Linked DNA regions of Homo sapiens: all the other regions are linked to region 3. The links come from fine-mapping of genetic effects on gene expression. A gene starts in region 3. Each other region holds a variant in brackets. All regions are shown on one strand. Distances are between the middles of the regions.

Region 1 (8,109 bases), 53 kb before region 3:
TTTATTATTTTGTCAGCCTAGATTAGCACTCCCTTTTTGGAGCTGGGATTTTATCCTCCCCAGGCCAACCATAAGCATCTCTCGGGGCATGGGAATGTTTCCCTAGAATTTTCTAGTTGGCTTGGTGAATAAGTGTCCTCTTTCCTCTCTGCAGGAAATTAAGGATGCAGACACTCAGGGCGTGTGTCTTGCACAGCCAGCCAGCCTGGGAAAATGAAGCCAACTGGGAGAGAGATTTGAAGGACTCTGGTTCTAGGCATGCGCACTTCTCCAGGTACTTGAGCTTGGAAACCTTCTTGCTTAACTAGCTCTAGGCCAATCTTGCTTCACTCGAACACGCACACACTTCTCCTTGCGCTATTTTGAATTACCAGAGGAGAATCTTTGACAAACACAGGTCGATGTTAGTGTGAGCCAGACTGGGCAACTACACAAAATCAAAATCAGGAAAGGAGAGCCACTTTGCTGGAATCTCCCAGAAGGCTGGTGGGGTGGACTCCGGGGCTTTGAAATCTCTAAAGAGTGGTGACTCACCTCTCCTAGAAATTGCCCTGGTTATATCATAAAAGGGCTCAATTTTTACATGAGGTCTCAATGGTCTTTTTACTTAATGTGACATCATTAGAAAAATCAACCTTTGACCAGAAAGAGGCAGTTCCCTCCTTCCTCACACAATTCACAATTTTCTGGAATTATTAATAAAAATTGCGTATCTCTAGGCAGAAGCTCTCCAATGCTAGATTTTTCACTAATATTCACATACAATTTACCTCAAGTTCCTCCTCTGCTCCTGACCTCTCAGGGCAGCTGTGGTACTCACAGGGTAAATTCCAAACACCTCACCCAGGCACTCAGGGCTTCAAGAATTGGGCCTGACCTTAGCCATCAACATCATTTCCCACTCCAGAATGAACACTTTGCCCTGGTCGTGCCAGTCTCTGTATTTCCTTTACATGAGTCCTGCTCACTCCTTTTCCACACCTTGGTGTAAGCTGCCCTGAACTGTCCCTCTTGCCTGTGTTCTTTCTCTTCGTCTTTTTCTTCCTTTTAAAAAATTGAGTGCTCACTGTGTGCCAGTTATGGCCCTGAATGCTGAGTATAAAATGACTCATAGGCCGGGCACGGTGGCTCATGCCTGTAGTCCCAGCACTTTGGGAGGCTGAGGCAGGTGGATCACCTGAGGTCGGGAGTTCGAGACCAGACTGACCAACATGGAGAAACCCCGTCTCTACTAAAAATACAAAATTAGCCATGTGTGATGGCCCATGCCTCTAATCCCAGCTACTTGGGAGGCTGAGGCAGGAGAATTGCTTGAACCCGGGAGGCAGGGTTTGTGGTGAGCCGAGATCGTGCCATTGCACTCCAGCCTGGGCAACAAGAGCGAAACTCCGTCTCAAAAAAAAAAAAAAAAAATTCATAGCACCTGGTTTTTGCCTTTGTTGAGGTCCTAACCCTCAGTACCTCACAGTGTGACCGTATGTGGAGACAGGGCCTTTAAAGAAGTGATTAAGGTGAAATCATATGAGTGGGCCCTAATCCACTATAACTGATGTCATAAGAAGAGGAGATGAAGCCAGAGACGTGCACACATGTGAAGACACCTGGCGAAGATGGCCATCTATAAGCCAAGGAGGGAGGCCTTCGAAAAAATCAACCCTGGGGATACCTTGATCTTGGACTTCTACCTTCCACAACTGTGAGGAATAAATTTCTGTTTAGACTACCCAGCCTGTGGCATGTTTTTATGGCAGCCTTAGTAAATGAATACAAGGGGCTTACAGTCTGGAGAGGGAGACAAATAAGAAAAGAAGCAAGAACAACACAGCCTTGTAAGCACAGTCATTCCCCCTTCTCCATGGGGAATATGTTCCGAGACTTCCAATGGATGCCTGAAACCTTGGATAGTTCCAAACCCTATATATACTATATTTTTTCTATCCGGTAACTGAGATGACTAAGTCACTAACTAAGTGACTAAGGGATAGGAACGTCTACAACGTGGAGATGCTGGACGAAAGGATGATTCATGTCCCAGGTAGGACAGAGCGAATGGCAGATTTCAGAACTCAGAACAGCATGCAATTTAAAACTTACAAAGTCTTTATGTCTGTGATTTTCCATTTAGTACTTTCAGATGCAGGTGACCATGGGTAACTGACACTGCAGAAAGCAAAACCTTGGACAAGAGGGCACTACTCTACCATGACAGGAGAAGCATAGAACTCTCAGTTGTGGGAGACGAGGAGTAGTGTTAGGACATTTCCCAGGGGGATGTTATTCTGGGTTGTAAAGGTCATGAGAAGTGCCTGTCCCTCCAAGGGTGCAAGGGTGACCAGAAGCAAGCTCTTAGGCATGGGTGGGCTTGCTGTGGATCTCATCATCCTGCTTCTACATGAGCCAAAGGCAAGCCAGTCTAGGTGCATGGCCAGCCCCCCGAGATGGAGCTCATGGTGAGGGACCAGCCAAGTCAATCACATCTGCCTTGGTAGATGGAGCCAGCAGCAGGAAAAGAAGCTGAGAGCCGCGGAAGGAAGGTAGTGAACAGCAGCCACGGGACCACAGATATGAGGCCACTCATAAAGCAGACCCAGGAGGCAGAGAAGAGGCTAAACAGTGAGCCTGGGACAAAGGAGCCCATGGAGAGAATCAAAGGTGGAGATGGAGGCCACAGGCATCATGGGGCCACTGGAGTGGAGAGAGTTTCAGAGGGTTCTGGCTGGGGTCGGTCCCCTGAGGCATGGCTCTGCAGCTGATATGCTTGCATGCATTGAGTGTGGAGAACTTAGTGTGGAGAACTTCTGTGGTTTTGGCAAATGCATAATGTCATGTATCCACCACCACAGAATCATGCAGAATAGTTTCACTGCCTTTAAAAAAATCCCAGGCTGGGCGCAGTGGCTCATGCTTGTGATCCCAGCACTTTGTGAGGCCAGGGCAGGAGGATCGCTTGAGCCCAGAAGTTCAAGATCAGCCTGGGCAACACAATGAGACCCTGTCTCTACAAAAAGAAAAAGAAAATTAGCCCGGCATGATCACACTCACCTGTAGTCCCAGCTACTCCGGAGGCTCAGTGGGGAGGATTGCTTGATCCCAGGAGTTTGAGGCTGCAGGGAGCTGTGATTGTGCCACTGCATTCCAGCCTGGGTGACACAGTGAGCCCCTTTCTCTGTTAAAAAAAAAAAAAATATATATATATATATATATCCCCTGTACTCCACCTATTCAAGCCTTCCCCTCTTCCCCAGAACCTCTGGCAATCACTGATCTGCTTACTGTTTCTCTAGTTTTGCATCATTTCGAATGTCATATAAATGGAATCATACAGTTTGCAGGCTTCTCAACCTGGTTTCTTTCACTTTGCAGTGTGCAGTTCAGATTTGTCCATGTTTTTGTGTGGCTTGATAGCCCATTCTTTTTTATTGATGAATAATGCACGCAGGCATCCATTGTATGGATGCACCACAGTTTGTCTACTCACCTATTGAAGGACATCTTTTTTTTTGTTTTTGTTTTTGAGAGGGAGTCTTGCTCTATCCACCAGGCTGGACTGCAGTGGTGTGATCTTGGCTCACTGCAACCTCCATCTCCTCTGTTTAAGAAATTCTGTCTCAGTCTCCCGAGCATCTGGAATTACAGGCATGTGCCACCATGGCCGGCTAATTTTTGTATTTTTAGTAGAGACGGGATTTCTCCATGTTGGTCAGGCTGGTCTCAAACTCCCAACCTCAAGTGATCCGCCCACCTCAGCCTCCCAAAGTGCTGGGAGCCACCGTGAACCACTGTACCTGGCCCTATTGAAGGACATCTTGATTGCTTCCAGTTTGGGGCAATAAATTCTTTTTAAAATAAAATATTTTGTAAAATTTGCAATACATAAAAAACATTAAGGATATCTTATTAGACTAAATCTACTTTGTAAATGCCCAAGAATAGCAGGTCTTTATTTTTAAGTACATCACTGAGATAAGTGAGGTTGCTTTGATCAGAGAGCTCCATGATTTTGGTTTTCTTTTAGTTTCAGTACCCATGACATTCCATTCAAAGGTTTGTGGAATCACTAAGTCTCTAAAGATGAAAGTTTGAAAACCATTGAACTAAAGAAGATTCAGTGAGAAAACTGGATGAGAGAAGGAGGAAATTTATTGACAACAATTAAACTATAGGACCAAACTCTTAATAGAGGAAAATAAAAACTGATTCTTGAAGGAAGAAGAAATAACTTCATTTTAATTTTTTTAGACTTTTTTTTTTTTTGAGACAGGGTCTTGCTTTGTCGCCTAGGCTGGAGTACAGTGCTGCAATCTCGGCCCATTGCAACCTCCGTCTCCCAGGCTCACTT[G/A]ATCCTCCCACCTCAGCTTTCCAAGTAGGTACCCACCACCACGCCTGGCTAAATTTTGTATTTTTTGTAGTGATTTTTTGTAGTGTATTTTTGTAGTGTATTTTTTGTAGTGATTTTTGGTAGTGTATTTTTGTAGTGTATTTTTTGTAGTGATTTTTTGTAGTGTATTTTTGTAGTGTATTTTTTGTAGTGATTTTTTGTAGTGTATTTTTGTAGCGTATTTTTTGTAGTGATTTTTTGTAGTGTATTTTTGTAGCGTATTTTTTGTAGTGATTTTTTGTAGTGTATTTTTTGTAGTGATTTTTTTGTAGTGTATTTTTGTAGTGTATTTTTTGTAGTGATTTTTTGTAGTGTATTTTTGTAGCGTATTTTTTGTAGTGATTTTTTGTAGTGTATTTTTGTAGTGTATTTTTTGTAGTGATTTTTTGTAGTGTATTTTTTGTAGTGATTTTTTGTAGTGTATTTTTGTAGTGTATTTTTTGTAGTGATTTTTTGGTAGTGTATTTTTGTAGTGTATTTTTTGTAGTGATTTTTGGTAGTGTATTTTTGTAGTGTATTTTTTGTAGTGATTTTTGGTAGTGTATTTTTGTAGTGATTTTTGTAGTGTATTTTTGTAGTGTATTTTTGTAGTGATTTTTGTAGTGTATTTTTGTAGTGTATTTTTGTAGTGATTTTTGGTAGTGATTTTTGGTAGTGTATTTTTGTAGTGTATTTTGGTAGTGTATTTTTGTAGTGATTTTTTCTAGTGTATTTTGGTAGTGTATTTTTGTAGTGATTTTCGGTAGTGTATTTTGGTAGTGTATTTTTGTAGTGTATTTTTGTAGTGATTTTTGGTAGTGTATTTTTGTAGTGTATTTTTGTAGTGTATTTTTTGTAGTGATGGGGTTTCATCATGTTGCCCGCTGGTCTCAAACTCCTGGGCTTAAGCAATCCTCCCACTTTGGCCTCCCAAAGTGCTGAGATTACAGGCATGAGCCACTGTGCCCGGCCAAATGACTTATTTTCTTTTCTTGGAGCAAGCTGTTTGAGCACAGCAATCGGAGCCTTAGCTTTGGGCCAAGCTGTGTTATCCCAGGATTTGATGCTGGACCCTTGGGCCAATATGTCTCAGTTCACCCACTGTGCTCTCACCCCATGTTAGCCCACCTAGCCTCGTACTCAAGGACAGAGTGCTGATCTTCCAGCTTCTTCATGTATCCTTTCTACAAATACTGAGCCTGCATGTTGATGGCTGCACTGTCTTAGGCTCTGGGAACAAAAGAGTGAACAAAAGTCAGCACAGGTTCCGCCCTTTGGGAGTTTACATGGAGTCCTGAGTCCTGCATCTTTTTTTTTTTTTTTTTTTTTTTTTTTTTTTTTTTTTTTGAGGTGGAGTCTTTCTCTGTTGCCCAGGCTGGAGTGCAGTGGTGCGATCTCAGCTCACTATAACCTCTGCCTCCCAAGTTCAAGCAATTCTCCTGCCTCAGCCTCTCAGCCTCTGGAGCCGTTGGGACTACAGTGCACTACCATGCCCAACTAATTTTTGTAGTCTTAGCAGAGATGGGGTTTCGCTATGTTGGCCAGGCTGGTCCCTAAGTCCTGACCTCAGGTGATCTGCCCACCTCTGCCTCCCGAAGTACTGGGATTACAGGCCTGAGCCACCGCGCCTGGCTAGTCTTGCATTCCTCATTCTAAAGATCTAGGTCCCAGCCCACCTTCTTTGTCAGCTTACTCAGCTATCCTGATACGCTGATTGGTGGCCTTAATGATGAAGGATGATGGTAGAGGAAAACATTTAATGACCCACGGACTCCGATAATACTCAAGAGCACAAATACAAAGAAATTAATCAAGGGAAGAGAGAAATGAAAATACTACATTTCAGTGAGAGTCTAGTAAAAAGAAAAGCATAATGTTTTTCCCATCCAAGATCACAGAACCCCTGAATTTTATCCATGCATCTTAGTTTAAGAACTCCTGTTGGGCCGGGCGTGGTGGCTCACGCCTGTAATCCCAGCACTTTGGGAGGCCGAGGCGAGCGGATCATGAGGTCAGGAGATCAAGACCATCCTGGCTAACACGGTGAAACCCCATCTGTACTAAAAAATCCAAAAATAAAATTAGCCGGGCGTGGTGGCGGGCACCTGTAATCCCAGCTATGGGAGGCTGAAGCGGGAGAATGGCGTGAACTCGGGAGGCGGAGCTTGCAGTGAGCCGAGATCGCGCCACTGCACTCCAGCCTGGGTGACAGAGTGAGACTCCGTCTCAAAAAAAAACAACAAAAAAAAAAAAACTCCTGTTGTTAAAATCTGAAAAAGAGAGAAACAAAGCTGAAGCTAGTAGAAATAACTGAAGTAAGAGGAATAAGAGGCATATGGTGGAAACCAGAAAAGAATTAGGCTGGGTGCGGTGGCTTATGCCTGTAATCCCAGCACTTTGGGAGGCCGAGGCAGGAGGATCACTTGAGCCCAGGAGTTTGAGTCCAGCCTGGGCAACATGACGAGACCCTGTCTCATTAAAAAAATAAAAAAGAAAAACTAATAGTGCAGCAATGGTAGGAAATGGGGTGGGTGCTGTGCTGCTGCTGTTGGGATGGGAGGGTGTGAGGAGTAAATAGAGAGGCCCTGGTGCCCAGCTGTATTCTCATACTGTCAGAATCATCTCCTTCTGTTCAGAATCACTCGAAGGTACTTAATACACTGTATGATTTCCAAACAGATACCTAGAATTTATGAAAATAGTTTGGATTTCCTGTTTTATGAAATAATCTCTCTCCTGTGGTAGGGGCGGGGGTGGGAGGAGCTTTCATATGTTCATGTGTTCCTTAGCATTCTTTTTGTTTGTTTGTTTGTTTGTTTTGTTTTGTTTTGTTTTGTTTTTTGAGACGGAGTCTCGCTCTGTCGCCCAGGCTGGAGTGCAGTGGCGGGATCTCGGCTCACTGCAAGCTCCGCCTCCCGGGTTCACGCCATTCTCCTGCCTCAGCCTCCCAAGTAGCTGGGACTACAGGCGCCCGCCACTACGCCCGGCTAATTTTTTGTATTTTTTAGTAGAGACGGGGTTTCACCGTTTTAGCCGGGATGGTTTCGATCTCCTGACCTCGTGATCCCCCGCCTCGGCCTCCCAAAGTGCTGGGATTACAGACGTGAGTTGTTTGTTTGTTTTTTTGTAGAGACAGAGTCTGTATGTATTGCCCAGGCTGGTCTCGAGCTCCTGGCCTCTAGCAGTCCTCCCGTCTCAGCCTCCCAAAGTGCTGGGATTACAGGTGTGAGCCACTGCACTTGACCCATATTCCTTAGAATTCTTTCAGGGTTTTATCTGTCTTTGTTTTTACATTTAACTTTTCAATCTAAATGGAATTAATTTTGGTAAATTGTGTAAGGTGATGCTAAAATTTTTTTGATCCCTAACAGCCAGCCTATTTTCCCAGCTTCATGTAGTAGATAATTCTTCCTTTCTCCACTAAACGGGCTCTGTCTTTATCATCCATTACATTCTTATTTGTACCTGATCAGCTTTGAATGCTATTCTGTAGCATTTATCAGTCTAGCTATCATTATAAGTTATCCATCTAGTTATTTTTGTATCAGGACCGCATCTGTTTAATTCTTGAGCTCTTTAAATGTGTTTAATACTTCCTAAGACTTTTTCACATTATTCTTGAATGTTAATTTTAGCACTTTTCACATGCCTACTCATCTAGAACAGCAGTTCTTAAGCTTTACTGTGCTATGGTTCCCTTTATTAAAACCTTTGAACCCTTTCTCAGATAATGACTTTAAACGGATAAAATA
Region 2 (8,109 bases), 50 kb after region 3:
AAAATTGTGCCACTGCACTCCAGTCTGAGCAACAGAGTGAGACCTTGTCTCTTAAAAAGAATTAACTACATGTGCATGTACCAACTCTGAAATAGGAAGTGTGTAAGATGCTCTTATCTTTGCATTTAAACCTGGCATTGCACAATATAAAAATGAACAGAACAGTTCATTCTAATCATTTAAAAATTTACCTTTACTGAGAACAACAATAAATAGCAATTTTTTGATCATATTATTTGTTAAAAAATATTTGAGACAGGATCCTGCTATGTTGCCCAGGCTGGTCTTGAACTCCTGGGCTGAAGCGATCCTCCTGCCTTGGCCTCCCAAAGTGTTGGGATTACAGGCATTAGCCACCATGCTCAGCCTAAATAGCAAATAAAATCACTATGATAAATCAAGAGAGAGACTTTTGGAGAAAGAAAAAAGCTTTATATTTTAGTAACTTTAACTGCATTTTCCCCCTGCTTTTTGAACAAGGTTCCCCACCATTGGGCCCCACAAATTATGTAGCTTGTTCTGGATCTCATAGCTATGGCTGAATAATTCAATCCAGCCTGTCAAATTCTGGGGCCATGTTTCAAAAATAATTTCTTAAGTATAAGAAGCCTCAACTTACTAACAGATTGTGTTCCAGCTTGTTTTATAAGTCAGCAGCTTGGATTTTGGCACGTGTTTTCTCATAGGAACACTGTTTTGAATAGTGGTCAGGTTTCCAAGCTAGCCCACAAAAGCATACTGAAGCTATAACACAGCTGATTGTCTACAGTCTATTTGCTGTTATAATAATGTAGCTGAAGACCATTTGTGTGGTTTGCCAAATACTGCACTGTGGGGTTGCACTTAACAGTTGGGTGGGGTCAGGGGAATTCTGGTTGGTTCTGGCCAAAGAGCTGTGAATAGTGGCAGGTGCCACTCTGGGCCAGGGCCAGAGCATTTAGTGGGTGTTGTGAGACCCTCCAGGGTGCTCTGTTCTCCTGCCACAGTCACTGGTAATCTTCTGGGAATGACACAGAGCAGAATCCTGGTGGACTGTGATAGGCATGTTGCATGAGCAGGAAATCCGCCATTGTGTTTTAAGCCACTGAAATTTGGAGTTGTTACCAGTGCAAAAGATACACAGTCCAATTTTAGAAATAGTCCAATGTGAAAAGCTATAATGTCTTTGGATGAAACTGATAAAGGAATGGGAAGTATCTACCCTCTCCTCAGATGTTTAGACAGAAGGGATGCAGAGAGATGGGACAGTAGCTAGAGAGGGACAAAGGTCAAAGAGGAGTTTATTTGCTGATGCCTTTCTTATATTTTTAAGATAGGAGATGCGTAAGTGTGTTTATATGAGAGTCAAGAGAGACAGAGCTAGAGAAAGAGAGGTTAGGTACAATCAGTCTACATCTGCAGGAACCGAAGACTTAAGGGGGTTAACTAACTTGTGCAAATTCTTATGTCCTCACTTTACAGATGAAGGAACCAAGGCCTTAACAAGGTCAAGTCACTCATGCAAGTTTACATGGTTTATAACTGGTTGAACCATGTCTTAAACCCATATTGGTCTGACCCCGAAGCCCACATTCCTGACTGCTAGGCTGCCTCACCTCCTAGTTTTTGGGTGAGTTGAGTTAACACAGGAGCAGAGAGCTCGCGGCCCCACAGTTAGCCTGAGAGTCAGGGGCCTTGCTATTCCTGGTGAAAGTTCTGTCTACACAAGGCGCTGCTTCCTCATTAAAATTTATGCTGCCAATTCTAAGAATTTTATATAGAGTTTTCAGCCTTTTTCCTGTGAAAATTTTCCCTTAGGAAATCAGATGATATCGAACATCCTTCCACCATTGAAACTGGGTCATTCTAAGGAAATGTAGAATCTCAGGAAAGATTCTAAGGAAATAGAAACTCAGAATTTTAACACTAATGATATCCCTGCCATGTAATAAAAGAAAAACAAAGAGAGCAAGACTCGGTGACTTGCTTGGGGTTCAAGAGTGTATTTAAGAACATTTCCAAGAGGTCAAACAAGCAAGAGGGAAACGCCAGCGATGCTGGGAGGTACCCAAGTGTAGCCGCTGGGATAACATGGGTTATGGTTGCGGCCAGGAGGCCTCTGGAGTGTGACACCAAAATAAGGCTGCAGCCGGGAAGTTGTATCCTGGCTTCTCCCCCAAAGGATGGTGGTTTGCATCCCATTCCCGCCAACTGGCTGATGGCAGGTGATAGCCGAGTCACATGGAGGGGGCCCAGCCGTCCGGGGGTTACCACTTCCTCCTCGCCCACAACAAAGGCCCTCTGCCAAGTGGATGTGTCTATAAATGCCTCCACCTTCAGCTTTCGGGGAACCGTGGACTATGCCTTCTGAAATGACTCTTCAAAGCTGGAGGGAGCATTTCTTCCTCAGCACTCTGGCAGACAATGGGGAGGATAGGACAGTGACACTCACATGAAAGCACGAAGTTGGGATGAAGGAGATGAAGCAATTCAACAGTGGCAGATCTCGTGATAGTGGCAGCTTGGAAATAAAACAAGCCCCCGGTCACATGGTGTCTCGTACCGCCAGCTTCATGGTGTGACTGCTTTGCAAAGGGAAGTTGGCTCGGGCCACTGACAAAGAACATCTAACCCCAGCAAGGCATTGCAATGGGAGCCAGAGATGCAGCTTGATGGCTTGTTTGTGGCTTGGGGATCTACAGTGGCAGTATTTTGATGTGTCCTGTTTTCTGTCCAGGCAGGGAACAGGGAATAAGTGTGTTTTAATAAAGCTTGGCCTCTGTATACCTGTGACCTTGGCCTGGCTTGGCTTATCTGCTTATCCCATGTGCACCTCACTGAGTTATTTGTTTAGACAGCATCTTGAATGACTGTTTTGTTTTGTTTTGTTTTGTTTTTTTGACAGGGTCTTACTTTGTCATCCAGGCTGGAGTGCAGTGGCATGATCTCACCTCACCTCACTGCAGCCGTGACCTACCAGACTCAAGTGATCCTCCTGCCTCTGCCTACCAAGTAGCTGGGACTACAGGCACACACCACTGTGCCTGGTGAATTTTTGTCTTTTTTCAGAGATGTGGTTTTGCCATGTTGCCCAGGCTGGTCTCAAACTCCTGAAGTCAAGCAATCCACCTGCCTCAGCCTCCCAAATTGCTGAGATTACAGGTGTGAGCCACCTCGCCTGGCCTGAATGACTACATTTTAACTTAAATTTAGAATCTTAATTATTACCTAATATCTTCAAAAAGGTCACACAATGATGTAGCATTGAAATTTCAGAAGATGGCTTGCACACACCAGGCAGTGGAACTGATGGCAGTAAAGATGGCCAAATCTCTCAGGACAGATCCCGGAATTTCCAAAATTCAGAAAGTTAGAGTAATGGACAGTTTGTCAAAAACTTCC[T/G]GTTGACTTTCAGGAGAAGTCATGTAATTTCCGTAATGTGAAATCCCACTAAAGAAAGAAGAAACTTCAAGGGGAACTAGAAAATGCAGGCAAACTTAGGATTCTTGTGCAGGCCTTGAACTCATATTTTGAAGTATTTTAGAGGTCAAGGGCACAAGTCCTGGTTATGGAAAGCAGTGTGCCACCGAGGATGTTTTGCAAAGCTACTGATGATCCAGTATTATTCCCAAGGATCTCCAGATGCAGAATACAAAGCAGGCTAAGACTTAAATGTTGATTATGATACTAAAGAAGAAAGTGATGTATTAGTGTTTTGATAAATGTATGCTATTGACAGTTGAGTACAGAGGATTTTTAGAGCCATAAAACTACTCTGTATGATACAATAACGGTGGATGATACATGTCGTTATAAATTTGCCCAAACCCGTAGAAAGTACACCAACAAGAATGAACCCTAATGTAAACTAGGTAATTATGATGTGTCAATGTAGGTTCATCAATTGTAACAACTGTAACACTCTGGGGCAGAGCGGGGAGTGTTAATAATGGGAAGGCTGTGTGTGTTTGGGGCAGGGAATAGATGGGAAATCTCTGTATCTTCCTCTTAATTTTGCTGTGAATCTAAAATGCTTTAAAACATAAAGCCTTTAAAAATGCATAATTTAAACAAGGACAGGACTCAGGAGAGGTGAATGAGATACCTGGGGTGCAAAAGGAAGGAGATGCCCATTCTTGGGGTTGTGCCGGTACAAGGCTAAATGGTTGAGAAGTCCACCATGTGGTTTATAATCCACAGCATCTTAGAATTGAGGAAATACAGTGGGCACAGTTCCCCCAAGGGCTGGGGTTCTGAGCTCTGTATTGGGCCTTCCTGGCCTCACCATCTCCATGTGTTTTTTCAGCCTGAGCACCAGCTCCTCTGGGGAGGGGCTCCTGGAGAAGCTGGGTAGGGGCCCATCCTCTGCGCTCTCATCATGCCCTGTACGAGTCTTTCTGTGAGTCCTCATCTCAGTGGAATTGCTTTTAAAAATCTGTCTCTTGCCCAGACTGTGAAGTCCTTGGGAAGAAAAATTGTTGTGTTATACCTTTTGTAGTTGGCCCAACAGCAATGAATGGACAAGCTCTGATGTCCTGTAGAGATGGGAAAAAACATAGTCTTTTGCGGACTGAGCGATTAATTTTTCTCCTTTAATCATCAGTGCAGCCCTCTGGTGGGCTGATGAAATGTCTTCAGGAGCCAGAGAGCACTCCCAGTCCAAGCCTTACCCTTGTCTTCGGTTGAGGAATAACTTTATCATTTGGTTAAAGTGGAATATGCCCAAGAAAGAAAAAGTTTTGCTTTTTATGACTCATGTCAACATTTTAAAAAACATCTTAAGGAAGTTTAGTCAAAGTGCTTAGGGAACTTTGGAAAAAAGATGCCACTATCTATGTCCTAGTGCATTGCATGAAGTCCCAGGTGCATTGTGTAAGGTCTCAGGTGCATTGTGTGAGGACACAGCTACATCGTGCGAGGCTGCAGGTGTGTGGCATGAAGCTGCAGGTGCATCAGTGTGGCTGTAGGCTGTTTAAAATCCTTCTTGTTCCACACAACCTAAAATGCTCACTTTCTATAGAAGCAATACCTCCTAGTTTTGCTTAGATCCCTAGACAAATAGTCTGCTTTCATAGGAGCAAAGGCATGGCTTATACCTGACTCTAGTTTCGAAAATGCAATGTTTAGAGCTAACAGCCTTCTCTATCTTGCTAGTACTCCGTAGCCACAGAATTTCCTGTTCATTGTATCTGGGAATCATTTGGATCTGTTTGTACTGGCTTATTATGATTTAAGAAGACTTGAGTTTGTAGCATTTAAAAAAGGAATTATATTTTATGTAATATGTACTTTTATTTTGGGTTCAGCAGAGCGGGGAGATGGGCAGGAAGGGGGAAGTGCTGATAGCTAAAGAGATTTACAAGAGGATGAAGAAGGTCAATATCGTGCCTCATTTCCCCTTCCTAGTGATAACTGCTAATATATTTCTATGGAGCCTCTTTTAATGGTATGTATTTCAAACATTTTGTTATAAACATAACACTCGGATATTATAGAATTGAAGGAAAAACACTTTTAATGCCACCACTCAGATAACCAGTGTTGCTATTATGATGCCCTTTGTTTTTTTGCTATGCATATAAAGTCAAATACTAAATCTACATTACAGTGTAAGCATTTTCCTGAACAAAAAAACATGGCACACACTTTAATTGCACAAGACAGAAACAATAGCACACAGAGCACACACATAAGCCCTATATCTCAATCTCACTTATAGACCTTGATGAAAAATATCAAACAAAATATTGACAATAGAATCCAGCAATATGGTTTAAGAAATGTATCATGACCAGTTGAAATTCATTTCAGGAATGTAGAGATTAGAACATGTTTGGAAATCTATTAATATAATCAACCTTATATAAAAACCCTGTATGATTATCTTGATACTGAAAAGTCATATGAAAATTTCTGTGATTTAAAAAAATCTCGAACTAATAGTCAGCATTATGTTTAATTAAACATAGTCACATTAAAGTCTAAAAAGATGAGTGTCATCATTATTTTCTTGTTCTAAAAATCCTAGTCAACACAACGAGCAAGATAATTAAACAAGATGTCTAAACACTGACAAGAAAGAGGCCAAATTATCTTCACTTGAAGATAATATGATTGCTTACAAAGAGAATCCTAAAAAATTTTAGACATAATATAGTTCAATAGACTGTACAAAATAAATATATAAGTATATGAAAATATGTAGAACAAATATTTAAAAATCATATATTTAATATATATTTAAAATAATACATAAAAACTTAGAGTTTCTTATATATCAGCAAAACCACTTAAAAGTAAAATGAAAAATATATTCCATTCACATCAGCAGCAATAAAATAAAACACCTAGGAATACATGTAACCAAAGTCAAAAGCAAAACAAAGTCAAATCAAATCTTTATGAACCAGTTCTGAGAGAAGTAAGACTAGAATGAACTGAGAGACAAATCTTGTTACTGGATGGGAAGATGCAATGTCAGAAAGAGGCACATTCTCCAACAGATCTCTAAATCCTATGTAATCTCAAAAGGAATCCCTAAGGGATTCCAAGTGAATTCTAAAACTCAGCATGAGAATAGCCAGGACCATTATGGAAAAGGCAAGTAAAATGGAGGTACTCCTCCCAGTAAATATTATTATTATTATTATTTTTTGTTCTAAGCCTGCCATTGTAGTGAATGACTACCACATATTAACACAAAGCTATACTAAGTGTGTATGATACTGATACAGGAAAAGACAGGTCAATCGAGCAAGTTAGTTCAGAAAGATCCAAGTGAGTGAGTGTGTGAGTATGCATGTATATGTGTGGGTACATTTGCATATAAATATATATATCAGAATTTAGTATCTGATAGAGGGGGCATTTCAAATATTTGGAGTAATTGTCTTTTTTTGTTTGTTTGTTTTTGAAACAGGGTCTCTCTCCGTGCTGGAGTTCAGTGGTATAAGCTTGGCTCACTGTAGCCTCAACCTCCTGGGCTCAAGTGATCCTCCCACCTCTGCCTCCCAAGTAGCTGGGACTACAGGCGCACACCACCATGCCTGGCTGATTTTTGCCTTTTTTGTAGATGCAGGGTTTTGCCATGTTGCCCAGGCTGGTCTCAAACTCCTGAGCTCAAGCCATCTGCCTGCCTCGGCCTCCCAAAGTGCTGGGATTACAGGCGTGAGCCACGCGCCCAACCAGAGCAACTGTTTATTAATAGGAAAACCATAAAGCTGGATCCTTATCTCATATTTTTATACCAAAATAAATGGAAGATAATAAAAAATTCAAATATGAAAAATGAAACCATAAAATGCTAAAATATAGGTGATTATTTTTAGCCTTAAAGTGCGTAAGTCATGATACCAAAAAGCAACTATAAAATATTTTATAGATTCACATAAGTAACATTTTCTAAAAGTCCTTTTGCATATTAAGAGTAATGAACAGGCCGGGCGCGGTGGCTCACGCCTGTAATCCCAGCACTTTGGGAGGCCAAGGCGGGCAGATCACGAGGTCAGGAGATCGAGGCCATCCTGGCTAACATGGTGAAACCCCATCTCTACTAAAAATACAAAAAATTAGCTGGGTGTGGTGGCGGGCGCCTGTAGTCGCAGCTACTCAGGAGGCTGAGGCAGGAGAATGGTGTGAACCTGGGAGGCGGAGCTTGCAGTGAGCCGAGATGGTGCCACTGCACTCCAGCCTGGGTGACGGAGCAAGACTCTGTCTCAAAAAAAGAAAAAAAAAACACAAAAAAAGGGGAATGAACAAAGTTGAAGTACAAATGATAAACTAAAAAAATGTTAACCATACATGTGACATTGGGTTAATATCTCTATAATACAAAAGAAATTTACAAATTAATTTGACAAGGACAAGTTATTTAATTAAAAAGTGATCAAAAGATATAAAGAGGCAGTTCATAGAAGAAAAAACAAATGAGAAATAAGTATGTGAAAATATAGTCATTCTCACTCATAATGAAAGGAATACAGATTAAAACCATGTAGTCCACGATTTGCTGCCAGGTTGGTGGTGATGGTAGGTTCAGTTATCAGGTATGGTCAGTGTGGAGAGCAGTGGGCTCAAAGAAACTGTTGCTGGGGGTGTAATTGGTTCAGACTTTCTGGAGGGCAGCTTGCC
Region 3 (8,105 bases):
CTTGAACTCCTGAGCTCAAACAGTCTCCCTGCCTTGGCCTCCCAAAGTGGTAGGATTATAGGTGTGAGCCAGCATGCCTGCCTTTTTGTGTTTTTTGTACCTAATATTTTCCCAGAAGTTCAGGAAAATAGCCCCTTAGGATTTGAGCTGCATGTTCAAATTTATACTGGTATCTTAGTCCATTTGGGCTGCTATAACAAAATGTCTTAGACTGGGTAATTTATAAACAATAGAAATGTATTGCTCACAGTTCTGGAGGCTGGGAAATCCAAGATCAATGAACCAGAACAAATGGTGTCTGCTGAAGGCCTGTTCCTTACAGATGGCACATTTCTCACTGTGTTCTCATGTGGTGGAAGGGCACACAGGCTCTCTCAGGTCTCTTCTCTAAGGGCACTAATCCCATTCACAAGAGCTCTATCTTTATGAACTAATCACATCCCAAAGGCCCACCTCTTAAAACCAACCCATTGGTGATTATATTTCAGCACATGAATTTTAGAGGGACACAAACATTCAGAACATAGCAACTGGAGAATGACGGGTTCTGCTTTTCTTCTGCCTTTCAATCCTTATACATGTGTCTCCACTGGCAGAATTTAACCTGGAAACATTTAGAGTAAGTTCTCTGGAAAATAGAGTGCTAGGCTGTCTCCCTATAGGTACAGAAGAGAATGTAGAAGGGGGTGGCAATCATGCCGAGTTGACAACTGACAAGCTGGCACATGCTCCTGTTGGGGCCTATGGGTAGAAAGGAGAGGACAATGAGGTCCCTGGCCTCATGCAGGTTTCAGACTCCAGGGAGACCTGTAAGTTCTGTGAGGGAAACAAGCAAAGGGCTGTGACTGAGAGTAACTGAGGACATAGTGTCCAGGAAAGGCCTCTCAGAGGACTGAAACATGACAAGGAGCCGCAGCTATGTGAAGGGCAGAGACTGTGGAGTTGTGACTATCCAGGTAGAGAGGTGTCCAGGGCAGTGAGCGCCACAGCAGCTCTTTTGAGCTTGATTTATTTTAGGAAATGATGGAAGGTCAATGTGAATGGCAGTTGGTGGAGTGTAGCATCATTTTAAGTTGGAGGGGATGGCAGGGGCTGGATTGTGCTGGGTCTTGTAGAACCAGGTGATGAGCTGGTATTTCGTACTAAGTGAAAGAGAAACGCTCTTATTCTATGTGGCATGTCTGGGCAAATTAGATTTCCATCTTGTTGGAAAATTGTTGTAAGATAATTTTGTTAGAATGAGTCATTTCACTAAAATCTGCCAGAAAATATTCATAATAAATATTAAATTTCCAGTGCCTCCAATGTGAATGCACTCTCCCATAGGGTTGTTCTACCACAACTGTACAATTCTATATGGCAGCCTCTGTGGGGAGCCATGGAAATGTTTCTTCAGGGAGTGACACAATCCTGTGTGGCTCCTGTGTGGAGGGGCCAGGAGGAGAGGAGAACAGATGAGATAAAGTGTTTTGAAGGTAGATCCTACAATATTTTGGAGATAAAGAGATTGGATGGAGGACATGGGAAAAAGGATGACAGGATGATGGCTCATCAGGTTTGTGGATGGCAGTGCCGTTTTACTGAGATGGGCAAAACTGGGAGAAGACCAGCCTTTAAAAGTGGAGGGGACAAAGAAATCAAGGAGTAATTAAAATCCAGGTATTTGCCATCCTATCATTTCTTGAATGTTCTATTTTCAATTAAAACTTAACCAAACTATTCACTTTTACAAGATACACGTTAGATTCAAGAACAATAACGTGATCTTTTTTGCCTTTCAGGATTAAAGAATCGGGTTAGTCAGTCTTGGTGGTGCATGCCTGTAATCCCAGTTACTGAAGAGGCTGAGAGGGAGGATCCCTTGAGCCCAGGAGTTTGAATCCAGCATGGGCAGCAAAGCAAGACCCAATCTCTTATTTTCAAATGTAAAAAATTAAAAAAACAAATTGGGGAAATATAAACTCAAGTTTTACTAATCTTTTCAAGTTCCTCTATGTTTTAACAATGTGTCATACACTTTACACATTATCTTATTTCCTCCATTCAGCAGTTTATGAGGAAGTTCCTTTTTTTTTCTTTCTTTTTTTTTTTTTTTTTAAGAGAAAGGGTCTCCTTCCATCATTCAGGCTGGAGTGCAGTGGCTGGATCATTGTTCACTGCACTGCACTGCAGCCTTGACCTCCTGGGCTCAAGGAATCCTTCCACATCAGCCTCCTGAGGAGATGGGACTCCAAGTGCCCAGCTAATTTAAAAATTGTTTTGTAGAGACACAGTCTCACTATGTTCCCCAGGCTGGTCTTGAACTCCTGGCTTCAAGCAATCCTCCTGTCTCGACCTCCCAAAGTGCTGGGATTATAGGCCGGGTGTGGTGGTTTACACCTGTAATCCCAACACCTTGGGAGGCTGAAGCAGGTGGATCACTTGAGGTCAGGAGTTTGAGACCAGCCTGGCTAACATGGTGAAAACTCGTCTCTACTAAAAAGAAAATACAAAACATATCCAGGCATGATGGCACATGCCTGTAATCCCAGCTACTTGGGAGGCTGAGGCAGAAGAATCACTTGAACCTGGGAGGTGGAGGTTGCAGTGAGCCAAGATCACGCCACTATATTCCAGTCTGGGCCACAGAGTGAGACTCTTGTCTCAAAAAAAAAAAAAAAAAATTGGGCGGGTGGGAGGATGGGGCTGGGCGTGAGCCACGTGTCTGGCCAGTAATTCCTATTTTTATCTTCATTTTACGGTTGAGATGTGAGGCTCAAAGAGCTGTCTTATCACTTGACTTGAACAGGGTACCACAATTACAGGTTCGGGTAGGAGTGAATCTTACTTCCTTTCAGTGACTTTTGAGTTCCCTGCTTTGTTCCAGATTGGTCAGTGCTATCCAATAGAACTTCTGCAATGATGGAAATGTTTTATATGTGCACTGTCCAATAGTCATGTGGCTATTAAGCACTTGAAATGTGGTCAGTGTGACTGAGAAACTAAATTTTTAATTTAAATAAATTTACATTTAATTAAGACATGTGGTTAGTGGCTACTGTATTTGTTAGCACAGATCTAAATCAACGGTCTCCAAACTGGGGTGCACGCAGCCCAGGGAGGGCATAGACTATGAAGAGTACAGAAAGAAAACATACATATATATATTTAAAATCATTATTTCTGATTTTTTTGTGTGTGTATGTTGTTTTTTAATGTACCTAACATACTAGGTATATTATAATAGGTGTATGTGTGTATATAAATACACACTATATATATCATACATATAATTCTGTGTGTATGTGTGACTGGGTCTTGCTATGCTGCCCAGGCTGGATTCAAACTCCTGGCCTCAAGTGATCCTCCAGCCTCAGCCTCCTGAGTAGCTGGGTATATTACATATGTAACAACTTTTATTTCACACTTACGTAGCACTATATAAATGTGTATATTATGTATGTAATAATTTTATTTCACACTTGTAAAGCACTGTGTGCCAGGTATATGCTTTACATATATTAATTCATTTCATCTGCATAATGACTCTGTGATATACTTTTATTATCTCCATTTTACAAGTGAAAAAACCAAAGTTATCTTTGGATGTGCCAAGGTTGTTAGAGACAAAGCCAATGTTTGATTACAGTCATTCTGGCTTCTATCTATGCACTTTACTTAAGCTAAATAAGTACATGGGAAGTGAGGAGGGCAAACATTTTTACTAATGTGAGTGACCAAAAATATTTGATAACTAATGCTCTAGGCTTGACCTTAGACAACCAGTCAGACATAGCAATTCCTACTTTCAAAATTTAAAAGGATTTTAGGCATTATTTAGTCCTGCCTTTTCCCCACTGATAGATATTGCTGTGCACGTAGAGGTGAATGAGGTAGAGTGATGGTACGGACAAGCGTCCTGGTGACATCTGTACTCATCTAGAGACAACTCTAACACACGAAAGATTGTGTGTGTGTGATCATACAATTTTCCCCATTTAAAAAAAGTTCATCTTTGCCAATTTTGTTCTAATTATTAATTTAAAAAAAGACTTGTTTGTTTCAGAGACAAACTCTATTGAAATAGGGGAGGATAGGAGGCAACAAGCCTGGAGGAGGAAGATCCCAGGTGGAAGAGCAGGGCGGAACCCAAGTCTGCTCTCATCCCTAGGTGCTCATCCACGTGCAGCTTGGCTGGTAGTGACTCTAATTCAACAGCAATCAAACACAGGTTAAAACAACTTACTGAAGTAATAGATGAATAAGAAATATAAAATTTACCAAAACCCAATTTCCTCCTACACACCACACACACTTTGTTTAAAATAAGTATGCTGTTCTCCCTACTTCGCCCCCATCCCTAGTCTACCCTAAGCAACTTCGTTACCTCTCTACGAACCCATCAGAGCGCTTAGCTATCAGATCAATTAGGGCACATTTAACCTTATATACTATGCAATAATTACAGTTTCTAGGTATGTGAAGTAGGCTGATGGGGTTTTGTGTCGTCAAAGTTTTGGGAAGACCAGAATTCTAAAGTATGCATTTAAAAGAAAGGGCTGGGTGGAGCACGTAGGGTATGTGTGTGTCGCCGCAGTTCCCTTGGTTTCAAGAGGAGGGATTTTAGGTAAAGCAAAGGGAAAGTGTGACGGAAAGGATTGCTGTGCTAAATGGGAGCAGCAAATGCCAGTACCGATGCCTTTGGGCATTTAGATCCAAAGCCTGCCTTTCTCGTTCTTCAGTTCCCCGGGGAGGCCTGTTGTGGGTGGGGAGGTGTCTTCCTTCTATTATTCCAGTCTCCCTAAGAACTTCGTAGACAGTTGAGCAATACTTTCTAAGGGCTGGTCGGAGTCAGGAAAGTCAGGTAAGGCGCCTCACGTGCACCTCAACGCGTCGCGGGAGCGCGTCCCGACCTCACACATGGACAAGCTCCGCCCGCGGCCGGCCTGAGTGGGTGTGGCCTCCGCCAAAGGCCCCGCCCCTAGAGCGCGTCGCGAGGGGCGCGAGGGGCGGGGCGAGGGAACTGGCAAGAAAGGGCGGGGAGCGAGGGGTGTGGGTGTGCTCGTGCCCGCGCGCTCGCGCCCGGAGTGTGGACGGGGGCGCGCCCGTGCGCGCGCAGGGGAGAGGCCAGCCCAGGCAGCCGTTGTCGGGTTCGACTGGAGGGGCGGGGGAGTCACCTGCGAGCGGCTGCGCTGGCGGCCAGCCCGCCCACCGCGTCTGGATCGCGCCGGCTGCGCGGGGCTGCGGACAGCACACACCCTGGAAGGCCCCGGCGGGGAACGGGCAGAGTCCGCGCCCTGCGTCCGCGACCAGGAGGATCGGACCTTCGCCTTCGCTGTCGCCGCCGCCGCCGCCCGCGGCCGTCGGGGTAGGTGAAGCCCGGGTGGGTGGTCCGCCGGCTCCTGACGGGCCGGGAGGGGAGACGCGAAACTTTCCGGGCGCTTCCTCCCGCGGTCCCGGAGCCGTCGCAGCGCCGGGAGGTGTCGTCGTCGCGGGCGGTGGCGGCCGACGCCATGTTGGGGTCTGTGAGAAACGGGGCGCTCCCGGCCGCTCCCCTCGCGCCGGGGCCGGCCCGCGGGCCAGTTGCCGCCGCCGTCCCGCCAGCCCGGGAGCGAGCCGCGCCCGCCCGTAGGACGCCGCCGCCGCCGCGGGGGGACGGGGGCCGCCGGGTAGGGTCCGGTCCACGGGTCTGCGGGGCGGGGGCCGGCGGACGCGGGAAGGAGCCCCGAGGCCGGGCGAGAAGTTGTGGGGCCTGAGGACGGGGGTCCTGGACACGGCCGGGGGCGTCTCAGGGTCGCGACAAATTTCTGGCCGAAAAGTTTGCAGGGTCTGCGTGTCGGGGACCTTATGACCTGAACTACATATTTGTATGTCACTTGGGAGACGAAAATGGCCCCGCAGAACTTGCTCTGATAGAAGCGATGGTTTATTTATTTGGAGCCTTTTCAAGTTTTATGATCCTTTGACGAATTTATTTTTCTTTTTAAAAATGTGATTGAAGGCCGAGAGCGCGCTGCCGGTGTTGCTTGAATAGCCTTGTGTGCTCTCCGTACATTCCAGCAATAACTTGAGTGTGCGGTGGAAGTGGGTATGAAGGTTACAGACACCTAAGCCCTCCTCGGTAATTCATAGACTCACAAAACGCGTTGTTGATAAATGCCTTCTTTGTCGTGTTGTGTAGTACGTTGCTGAAGAGACTCATTAAAGAAAGATTTAGACAGAAACTTTGAGAGTCTTAAAGGCATGTGTTCTCTTAAGAATAAGAAGTGATCTTGACAGTTTGAAGTTTTTTTCCCCTCCCTTTAGTTTCTTAAGGGTGAATGCCTACCGCGTTTTGAGCATTTACTTTTTTTAAATACTCTGGCAGCTCGTGGGGTCTTCACGTTAATTCAGTATTAACGAAGGCTTCATTATAATCTCTTTGGGTCCCGACCACACGGGGAATGAATGGTATTAAGCTATTTATTTGGAAAGCACACGTAATCGGCCTCTAAATAAAACTAGTATAGTGACTAAGCTTCAGAAGAAAATATTCAGCCTCAGTAAATGAATCTAAATGATTTTTAAATAAAGACATCTTGCTTTAAAATTCTGTTAAATGAACTGAAAAGGCTCTTAAACACAAATACAGTAAGCCCTAAAACCCCAAATTCTTGGAGAATTTTACTTTTTAGATCTAAAAATACAGCTTCTGCTCATATTTGATTGTCAATTTCTTTTTCCTTTTTTCTCTTTTTCCTTCCTTCCTTTTCCTTTTCCTAGACAGGGTCTCTGTCTGTCGCCCAGGCTGGAGTGCAGTGGTGTCATCTCCGCTCACTGCAGCCTCAAACTCCCGGGGCCCAGGTGATCCACCTCGGCCTCCTGAGTAGTTAGGACTACAGGAGCGCATCACCACACCTGGCTAATTTTTGTTTGAATTTTGTGGAGAGAAGGTTTTGCCATGTTGCTCAGGCTGTATTGCCAATTTCTGTTGTTCTTAAAAATTCTTTTAGTTTTGCTTCATTGTCAAGTAAATGGCATTATAACATTTTTTATTTAGAAATGAAATTAACTAATTTCACAAATGTAGCAGCCAAACTGGTATTTAACTGAGATCTTATGACTCTGAAGCCTTTTCATTTTTCCTGTAGCATAACTTTGTAGGATACATAACTCAGTCTTCTGGAGCAATCTGTCCATCTCGTTTGCTCTTATCACTGCTCTGACTTGAATTTAGTTCTTCAGTATAAATACTTATTTCCCAGCGAGCTGATTTACAGGTGATCCTTGTGATGAAATTTTTTCCTTAAAAATACTTAAGCCTATACTCTTTGAAGCCTTTTCTGCTCTGTTCTCTCATTCCACTCCCTTGCCCTCTCCAGAAATCAATTAATTTCTCCCATGGTATTACTGTAAATATCGCATAGATTCTGTCATGACATCTCCTTGACAGCAGGCAACACATCGGGTCTGATTTGCCTCTTCATTCCCTGCATGCCAAGAACATAGCAGATGCTCAGGAAAGGTTTGAATGGATGAGTACACGTATGTTTGTTCCTTGTAAATATGCTTCATGAATTTCTTTTGAAATTGTAAATTCCATGAGCATCATAGTTAAATCTTCTTTGTAGTCTTTTTCCCAATACATGCCATCAACTCCATTAAATCCACAGATTGGTTTTTATTATATATACACACACACACACACACACACACACACACACACACACACATGTTTTGTTGTTGTTTTGTTGAGAATTTAACTTAGTACCTGAGTGAATTTTCGCCTGGGGGTACAGAACTTGAATATTTATGAAATTTCTAAGTAGATAATGGATTAAAGTATAATTACTGATGTATGAGAGAGAAGCCATGGATCATCAAAAGGATTATAATCATAATTTTAAGTGTGATTGAATGTATTTGAACTTGATGGAAATATTGTTAATGCTTGAAAAATTTAAAGGTCATATTTATACATTTAAGCTCTTGGAACAAATCTCATTATAGCTCTATCAATTATTGTTTTGCCGGAATTGTCTTAGAATTTTTAGAATGCCCTGCTTAATAGAAAGTATATGAAAAATTTTTTTGTTGTTGTTTATCTTTGATGAACCAGCTTTGTACATGAGCTGCCTGCTTAATAT
Region 4 (8,109 bases), 80 kb after region 3:
TGGAGTCCCTGAGGGTCAGAGGAGCTTCCAGGCCTCTCCACCCTTGGTGGGCATGCGGTGTGGCCTGGACCTTGGACCTTGGACCTTGGTTTTTATGTGATTCTCACCTGGGGATGGGAATGGTATGTGACCTCTTCCCAAGGCCCTCCATGGCACACTGGAGCTGAGAACTCCTGCTTGACACGCTGAGTAAGCAGGCAGGGGACCACGACGGCATTTTTCTTCAACCTCATGGAAGAAACAGAGCTCAGGGAAGAGGGAGGGGGTCTTGTCAGGAAGAGAAAGGAAAGTGGGGAGTGGCGTCCTTAGCCAGGACCCAAGGTTGAGGATACCAGTCAGCACCCAGCGATCAGAACATTCCACCACATTCCTCAGGAAGAGAAGCCGCTGTTCTCTTTTTGTTTGTTTGTGGGGGCAAAGGGGATGGCACTTTGAAAGTCAGACATGGTGAAGGCAGCCACAGCTTTGGGGGTGCCAGGTGGCTCTCTGTCTCTCTTCTCTCCTCTGTTTCTCTCTTTCTTCTTGCCCCTCTCTTCCCCTTCCCTTCTTTCTCTCTTCTCCCTCCATCTTTCCTTTTCTCACTGTGTGTCTCCTTGACATCGGGTCTCTATTTCTGTCTACCACTCACATCTGTGTCTCTGCTTTTCTCTCTCTCTCTCTCTTGCTGTCTCTCATACAGAGCCTGGCTTTATTCCTATTACCTCAGCTGAAGGGCCAGGACACCTCAGGAAGCACCTGTGCTCCGGCCCTGCCCAAGCACTTTTTCCATGTTCTCCTTTACACTTCCTCATGCATCCCTTCTTTTAACACGTGCTCACAATGTCATCCGTGCCTTTCAAGTCCCCTCACATATTTTCATCCGTTTTTATCAGCAAATATACAGGCATCTTCCTGGTGCCCCCCTGTCCCATCCTGTTGGCCCAGACCCAGGCTGACAGAAGTTTCAGCTCCTTGGGGCCTGCTGGGGATGGGCGATAGGTAGGTGGTGCCCGCAGAGATCGGGCTCCTCACCCTCAATTCCTGAGAAACCACTGAAACAGGAGAGGGGCATTACAGCACCCTCGGCTCTCAGCCTCCTGGGGCTGCTCCCTCCTGAGGCCAGGACCCAGGATGAGAGCACCCAGGTAAAGGCTGCAGAGCTCCCCAATAGCATACGGTTTAGAGGGAGAGCCTGGGGCCTGATCTCTGACCGGGACCTCTGGCGAATCATGTAATCTTTTTGAGCCTCGGGTTCTTTCTTTAAAACCTGGAAAATTGGTATTTTGTTTGCTCTATTGCACAAAGCGTTACCCAAAATGGGTATTTTGAGTAAAAAATACCCATTTTGTACTCAAAATACCCATTTTGGGAACAAAGCGTGCCTTAATGTATAAATTCAATCCTGCAACAACCTCACTACTAGGCAATATTATCATCTCTGTGAGGAAATGGAGGTTTAGAGAGGTGAAGTCACTCATCCAAGTTTGCTCAGCTGATAAGCGGCAGAGCTGGGTTTCAAACCCGACAGTCTGGCCCCAGGCCCTACACCCTTATGGTTGAGTGTTTTCCTGATGGTCTGTGAAATGCTCTCTTCTTCCACTTTTCTGGGATGGCCTGGGAGAACACAGTTGGTGCCCCTCTCCGGGTACCTCTGAGAAACTGTATTTCCAGGTCTGGCTCTATGGACAAGTGCCCACAGCATGGTTGTCCAGTCTGCAGAAGTGATAGTCCAGGTGCTGAGAGCACGTGGCCACCTCCACCTGGGTCTTCTGAGGGACACAGGGTCACTGAGTGGAGGGAAGGCTCTGATCCAGGGCTGCAGTAACCATCTGTGTTTTCCCCTAAGTCTCCTCAGGCTTTGTTGCCACAATACATTTATTTTTGGAGAATTAGCACCCCCAGTTCAGCACACTGGACCTCTTATTTGCCAGCTGCTTTCTCTCTTGTTTCTGTTTAACTATGGTGTGTATTGACTTTGCTGCTGCTATCTTTGTTTCACCTCTGAAAAGAATATTTGAGTGGCAAGTACTGTTTATTCTCTTATTTCTTCAACAAATATGACTTCCATGCACAGGACACTGTGCTGATTACTCTGGGGGATATGAAAAATGAAACTGGTGTGGCCTTTGCCCTCAGGAATCTTATAGTTCACTAGGGACACACTAACATGCACGGAGGTCACTGTGATACCATGTGGAGTGTGGTGAGAGCATTAGCACCAAACACGCACGTCGGGACTTCAGACAGAGCTCTTAGGGAAGCTTCCCAGAGGAAATGATGTCTAAATAACTAAGTTAAAGTGCAGAGACCCCAAAAACACAGTGATTTATATAAGATCAATCTTAAAATATAATTGTATTTCTCTCTCCTGTGACGGTGCGGATGTAGGTGGCAGTTGAGGCTGCTGGGATAGCTCAGCTCCACAAGGTCATTCGGGGACTCAGTTCTGCTCTATCTTGTTACTTTGCTCCGGTGTTCCACAGGGTGTTGGCCTCATCTCTACGGCTAAAACTTGGTCATTGCCACATTAGTGTTCCAGCTTATGGGCTGGGCGGAGAGGATGGAGGAATATACAACAGGTGCTTTAGGGCCCAGACCCAGAAGTGGCTCACATATCCTGTTGGCCAGAACTTGGTCATTTAGCCACATCTAATTACAAAGGAGATGGGGAAATGTAGTCAATAGCCAGGTGGCCAAGTGCCCAGCCAAAAATTTAATGTGGACGAAACAGATAACAGGGATTATTATCTCCATGACTCTATCACAATGAGTTGGACCTTGGCATATAAATAGAGCCTTGCTAAGTAAAAATTAGAATGAGAGGGCATTCAGGTGCCTTCCAGAAAATGTCAGAGGTAAGGAAAAGTGCAAGATGTATTTAGAGAAAGTGAATATCCAGCATAACTGAAGTGTAGGGTTTCTGTAAAGGAGGTTGTGACCTACATACAGGTGGAGATAGGGCAGGCCTCATCTCTTTAACAGGCTGCTCAGCCTTCCAAATAGAATGTAACCATGCCACCTGTACACCTGCTATCCCAAACACTTGATTCTTCTTTAACCAACCACACAGGATGTATGTTCTCTGAGCCCTACTCAGGAAATTTAACCTTGAGCTGATAGTGATCTAGATCCTATCAAAATCTTGGCTTCCTAAGGGTATGCTATTTGACTACTTTTTTTAAGCAATGATTCTTGTATGTATTGATGCTGATCCCAGAAAGTTCTATGAAGGACTACATTAGCCCAGTCTCCTAGCAGAAGCCCTTCACCATGTTGAGTTTCATGTTAAGCTCTTGGAAGAGATGGCCACACGAAGAACACTTTGGTATGTTCCAACAAAACATTATTGAGGATGTTGCTCACATTTTGTTCATGGTATAACATGGTATTTTTAAATAAAAATCAACCACAGGCTCTATATCTTGCGACATCCTGTTGCTTTGTCCTTGGCATTCAAGACTAAACAAACATTTATCAAGGCACTGGCTATTGACAGATACTGGGCCAGGTGCTTGGTGGGAATATAGAGAGAAGAGACACAGTCCCTAACTTCCAAGAGCTCACAGTCTGGGGCAGGGGATGCGAATATGTGGCTTGTGAGGCAGACAGATAAGTAATAGGCATTTATGACATAATTTGGTAAATGTTGTGTGAAGCACAGAAAAAGATGCTATAATAGCCTGGAGAGAGAAGGCGAGGAAGGCCTTCTGAAGGAGCTAAGTCTTGGAGGTTGAATAAGGGTCAATAACATTAATCATGAGGAATGGATAAAACAATGTTCTAGGCAAAGGCAACAGCTTAGCAAAGTCATGCAGAAATGAGAGAGGGTGGGGCTCAGTGTGGCTGTGGTTTAGGGGGAGGAGGGGGGATTCAGCTGGAGGGATAGGCTGGGCTAGTCACAGGGGCCTTGCAGCCCTGCTGAGGAATTTGGGCTTTTGCCCACAGGCTCTATACCATCCTGGCAGATGATCAGATCCATATCTTAGAAATGTCAGTCTTGTCAACATAAGTTAGGGACTGGACTAAGAAGGGAAGCTGTTGCAATATGTCAGGTGAGAAATGATGTGGCCTTAAACATGTGAAGACAAGGTGGACATAAGGAGGTGGAAAGAGGTTGGAGGAATATTAAGGAAGAAGAATCAATAGCACTTGGTGACTGATTTGGGGGTAAAGGAGAAGGAGAAGGTGATGGGACAGTGAGGTGTTTGGACTGGCAGTGTTACTCCTTTAGAACCAGCTGACAGGGGAAGGAGCAGGTGAGGGGTGGGGGATGAGGTGCTTGACTGTGGAGGTGGGCCAGGCAGTCAGATATGCAGGAGGAAGATAAAGATTTTGGAGTTTCCAGTGTGCAGGTGCAGGTTAAAGATAAGGAGTGTGTCCAAAGCCAGTGAATACTGAATGACACACCTGCGGTGTTGTCAGATGCTTTTTATTCCACATAAGAAGTTGATGCAATGGCTACTGTGGGCCTGGAGCTTTCACACTCACTTATTTAGCCTGCTCCATAAAGCTGTGAGGAAGAATGCATTTACTTATTGATGCTTGGCTGGAGAAAGGATTTAAGCCTGTAGGTATTATCACTAGGCTGATTTTACAGTGAGGTTCAGAGAAGTGAAATGAGTGGTAGCAGGCCAGGTTGCACAGAAGATGGTGGAGGGGGATTGAAGGGCAGGCCTTTGCAGCCTGGTCTATACCACAACTGCCTTTTGTGATGTGGGTGCCCTTTGAGCAGGAGAGGCATAGCTGCTGGTAGCACATGCTGCTCACAGGGGACTACATGAGTCGGTGGGGCAAGGGCACCTGACCATGGCCTTGGCTCCCGTGCATGCACTGGGTTCTGACTCTGGCACAACCCTGGGCATACTCAGCTCGGTGAGCTGGTTTGGTGCTCATTTTATCATCCTTTTGGTGCAGGAGGATTTCTGTCCCTCTTGGCCCTCCACATCCCCTGCTGTCCTCATGGCTGGAGAGGAGGCCTGCAATGAGGCAAAACTGACACCAAGGCAGGCCCATCCATGGTGAAAGCAGA[G/A]GTGTACTGGCATTAGGTGTTGAAAGATTTGCATGCGGAAGGGGTTGGGGAGAGGAAGTACTTAACCACTGATGTTGATTTAGTGCAAGGCTGGCACAGTGGGTTGAATTGTGTCCCCCCCCGCCCCCACCAAATATGTCCCAGTACCTGTGAATATGAGCTACTTCTGCAGATGTAGTTAAGAATCTCGAGATGAAATCATCTAGGATTTAGGGTGGTTCTAAATCCAGGGTCTCTCTGTTGCCCAGGCTGTGGCACCATCTCAGCTCACCACAGCCTCCACCTCCTGAGCTCAAGAGATCCTCCCGCCTTAGCCTCCCGAGCAGCTGGGACTACAGGTGTGCACCACCAGGCCTGGCTAATTTTTGTATTTTGTGTAGAGTTGGGGTTTCACCATGTTGCCCAGGCTGGTCTCAAACTCCTGGGCTCAAGGGATCTGCCCACCTCAGCCTCCCAAAGTGCTGGGATTACAGACATGAGCCACCGCACCCAGCCTGAATCTACTGCCTTTATAAGAGAAAGAAGAGGGAACTGTGACACATGGGGAAGATGGCCATGGGAAAATGGGGACAGAGATTGGGGTGATACAGCCACGAATCTAGGAATGCCTAGGGTTCCCAGGAGCTGGAAAAGGCAAGGAATCTTCTCCCCTAGAGGCTTTGGAGGGAGTGTGGCCCTGCTAACACCTTGATTTCGGCTCAGTGATGCTAATTTTGGACTTCTGGCTTCCAGAACCATGACAGAATAAATTTCTGTGGTTGGAAACCACCAAGTTTGTGGTAATTTGTTGCCGCAGCCCCAGGGAATGAACACAGCTGGCAAACATGTGGCAGGCAAGTGCCTCCTACACCTAAGGAGGATGCCAATAATCACCCTCAGTATCCCTTCTGGGGAACCCGGCACCACCCTTGATCCTGCCCACAGAGCCCTCTGGCAGCTGCTGCCACATGACTGGAGCTGTCACACTCCATGCTGTGATTTAGTGCTCACCAGGTCCCTAACACTGGACTTGGCTCAGGCAGCTCAGAAAAGGGTCTGGCAGGGCCACTGTTCTCAAGGGGCCTGGAGCCTTGGCCTGTGTGGGTGTGGGGCATGGCCATATCACCTCTGGAGCATGAACAGTGCCTGCCAGTCTCTGGACATCTGCTCAGGCCACCCAGCCTCAGCTCAGCAGCTGGGCTTTCTCCAGCTTTTGGGCTGTCCAGCTGCAGCTCAGCAGACAGCAGCATAGGACTTGTAACTTATTCACCTCGAGGTGAATAAGTTACCCACAGAGATTTAGGCAGAGAAAACTACCGTTTGAGCCAATAGGTTAAAGAAAACGCACCAGTGCCTGGATTTTGCCTTTAAATCCAGGGACAGCCTGGATTTAAAGGTCTATGGAATTCCTGAGGTGAATGCTTCCTGAAGCCATGGAGAAGGATGGCACAGAGCAAGTGTGACATGGGAGGTGTCACATGCTTCTCTTAAAGGAGAAGCAAAACTATCCGGATATGGGGAAAAGGACAAAATATCATACAGGATGCAGCCTCCCCTGCCCTCAAAGAGGGGTGCTTATCCTGATGGCGGGGGGCGGTTTCCTCACTCAGGACTTCCTCTTTCTTTTCTTCGGCGCAGTCCCCTCCAATTGCTTGCCTCAGAATCACTGGCTATAATTATACAAAAGTGGATTCCCGAACTGCCTCCCAGACAGACTGAGTTTGAATCTCTGTGGCTAGGACCTAGATATCTGCATTTTTAATAAGATCCCAGATGATGCTGATGTATCATCAGCTAAGAATTACTGGCCTAAAGGTGTTTCCAACACAGCCCACCATGCCAGTACAAAGCAGCTGTGCACACTTTTGGAAGGATCCCCATTTTCTCCTGGGGAACTGGCCTTGGGATATGACCAATAGCGCCCCATAGCTCTCAGAACAACCCTGTCCCCATGGGCCCTCGCGGGCAGGCTGAGCACAGCAATGTGGCACTCAGCGGCTGGCCTGGGATTTGTTGGAAATAGGTTTGCTGCTTCTCAGCCAAGTGGCCTGAAGCAAACGATTTAACCTGTCTTGATTTCCTCATCTGGAAAATGGGGACACCAATAGAACCAACAAAAAGTGTTGAGAGGACTGAATGCCAGCATGTGCATGAAATGCCTCATCGGTGCATAGTACAGCATTTGATAACTCAGAGCTTTTTCAAAAAGGTATGATGATGAAAACCTTATTCAGAAGAAAGAAAACTTCACAGAAATCATTATTACAAAGCCCAGCTGAAGCTCTCCTGCACATCAGACCCCTTCTGGGAAGTGTTTGGAAAACATCAGTCTAGTGGCCCCTCCCCAGTCTTATGCCTTCCCCATCCTTCCCTCCCATCTGTGAAAACAGAGGAATCTCTAGTGGGGGGTGTCTGAGTTTTTTGAAAAAGAGAAAGCTTTCCTCTGGTAAGAATCACCTGGGGGCACTTGAAGACACGGCCTGGCCTCTCTGGGAAATTCTGCTTTTGGTGTTGGAGATGGGTTCTTGGAATTTACATTTTTAATCAGGTACTTCTTAACTTTTCAGCAGTTAAGGAAGCACTGGTTTAAAGTGGGTTTAACCTTCTGTGGTTGAGAGAGGTTTTGGCGCCACCCTGACCAGCCAAGGCTGTCTCCCCTGTTATCCACAATTCCTTGTGGCAACACCACCTCTATCTAGGAGGGAAGTGTCACTTATGGTGTGGAGCCTGCTAGTTGTGTTTGGAGATTGCAAAGCACAGTCTTTGTCGGTCTGTGTATGTGTTCATGTAAGTGTGCACACACCCTCACACTTCTGAAAACTACCTCGATGATGGCAGGAAAAAAGAACTGGCTAAAATTGTAGAAGTTGAGAGCCAACACAGTGCTCAGAGGAACTTTAACGCTAAATAAAAACAAAGGATGAGGAGGGGTCCCATGGACAGACGGGGGGAACGGGAGACTCAGTTGAGAGTGGAGGCCCCTGACTGAAAGCCAGCAGTCCCCACGTGGAGCTCTCACCTTCTGGATGGCTCAGCCTGGCAGGCTGCTTCTGTTTGAGAATCCTGGGAGGCTCGCCCTTCCACATGTACTTTAAGCCTAGAGAAGTGTTGGGAGCTGTCCT

What was found.
Region 1: its variant is fine-mapped to the expression of PLEKHF2 in monocytes after Pam3CSK4 (Quach 2016, PIP 0.95).
Region 2: its variant is fine-mapped to the expression of PLEKHF2 in whole blood (TOPMed, PIP above 0.99).
Region 4: its variant is fine-mapped to the expression of PLEKHF2 in whole blood (INTERVAL, PIP above 0.99).

The regions. Positions count from the first base shown.
Region 1 is chr8:95,075,479-95,083,587 of GRCh38, forward strand. It overlaps a transcript of NDUFAF6 not described here. Among named protein-coding and RNA genes, the nearest start is that of MIR3150BHG, 6.4 kb to the left of the region's middle. The variant G/A (reference allele first, on the strand shown) is at 4,340.
Region 2 is chr8:95,179,128-95,187,236 of GRCh38, forward strand. It overlaps LOC124901982 (a long non-coding RNA gene), which reads left to right. Exons shown (of 2, transcript XR_007061015.1): 2 at 2,885-8,109. Among named protein-coding and RNA genes, the nearest start is that of LINC01298, 33 kb to the right of the region's middle. RefSeq lists an enhancer at 2,206-2,305. The variant T/G (reference allele first, on the strand shown) is at 3,382.
Region 3 is chr8:95,128,684-95,136,788 of GRCh38, forward strand. PLEKHF2 (pleckstrin homology and FYVE domain containing 2) reads left to right here and starts at 5,102. Exons shown (of 2, transcript NM_024613.4): 1 at 5,102-5,347. RefSeq lists silencers at 4,844-5,483, 5,504-5,663.
Region 4 is chr8:95,208,312-95,216,420 of GRCh38, forward strand. It overlaps LINC01298 (long intergenic non-protein coding RNA 1298), which reads right to left and starts at 8,063. Exons shown (of 3, transcript NR_046232.1): 1 at 8,007-8,063; 2 at 108-267. RefSeq lists enhancers at 4,554-4,613, 4,854-4,903. The variant G/A (reference allele first, on the strand shown) is at 5,009.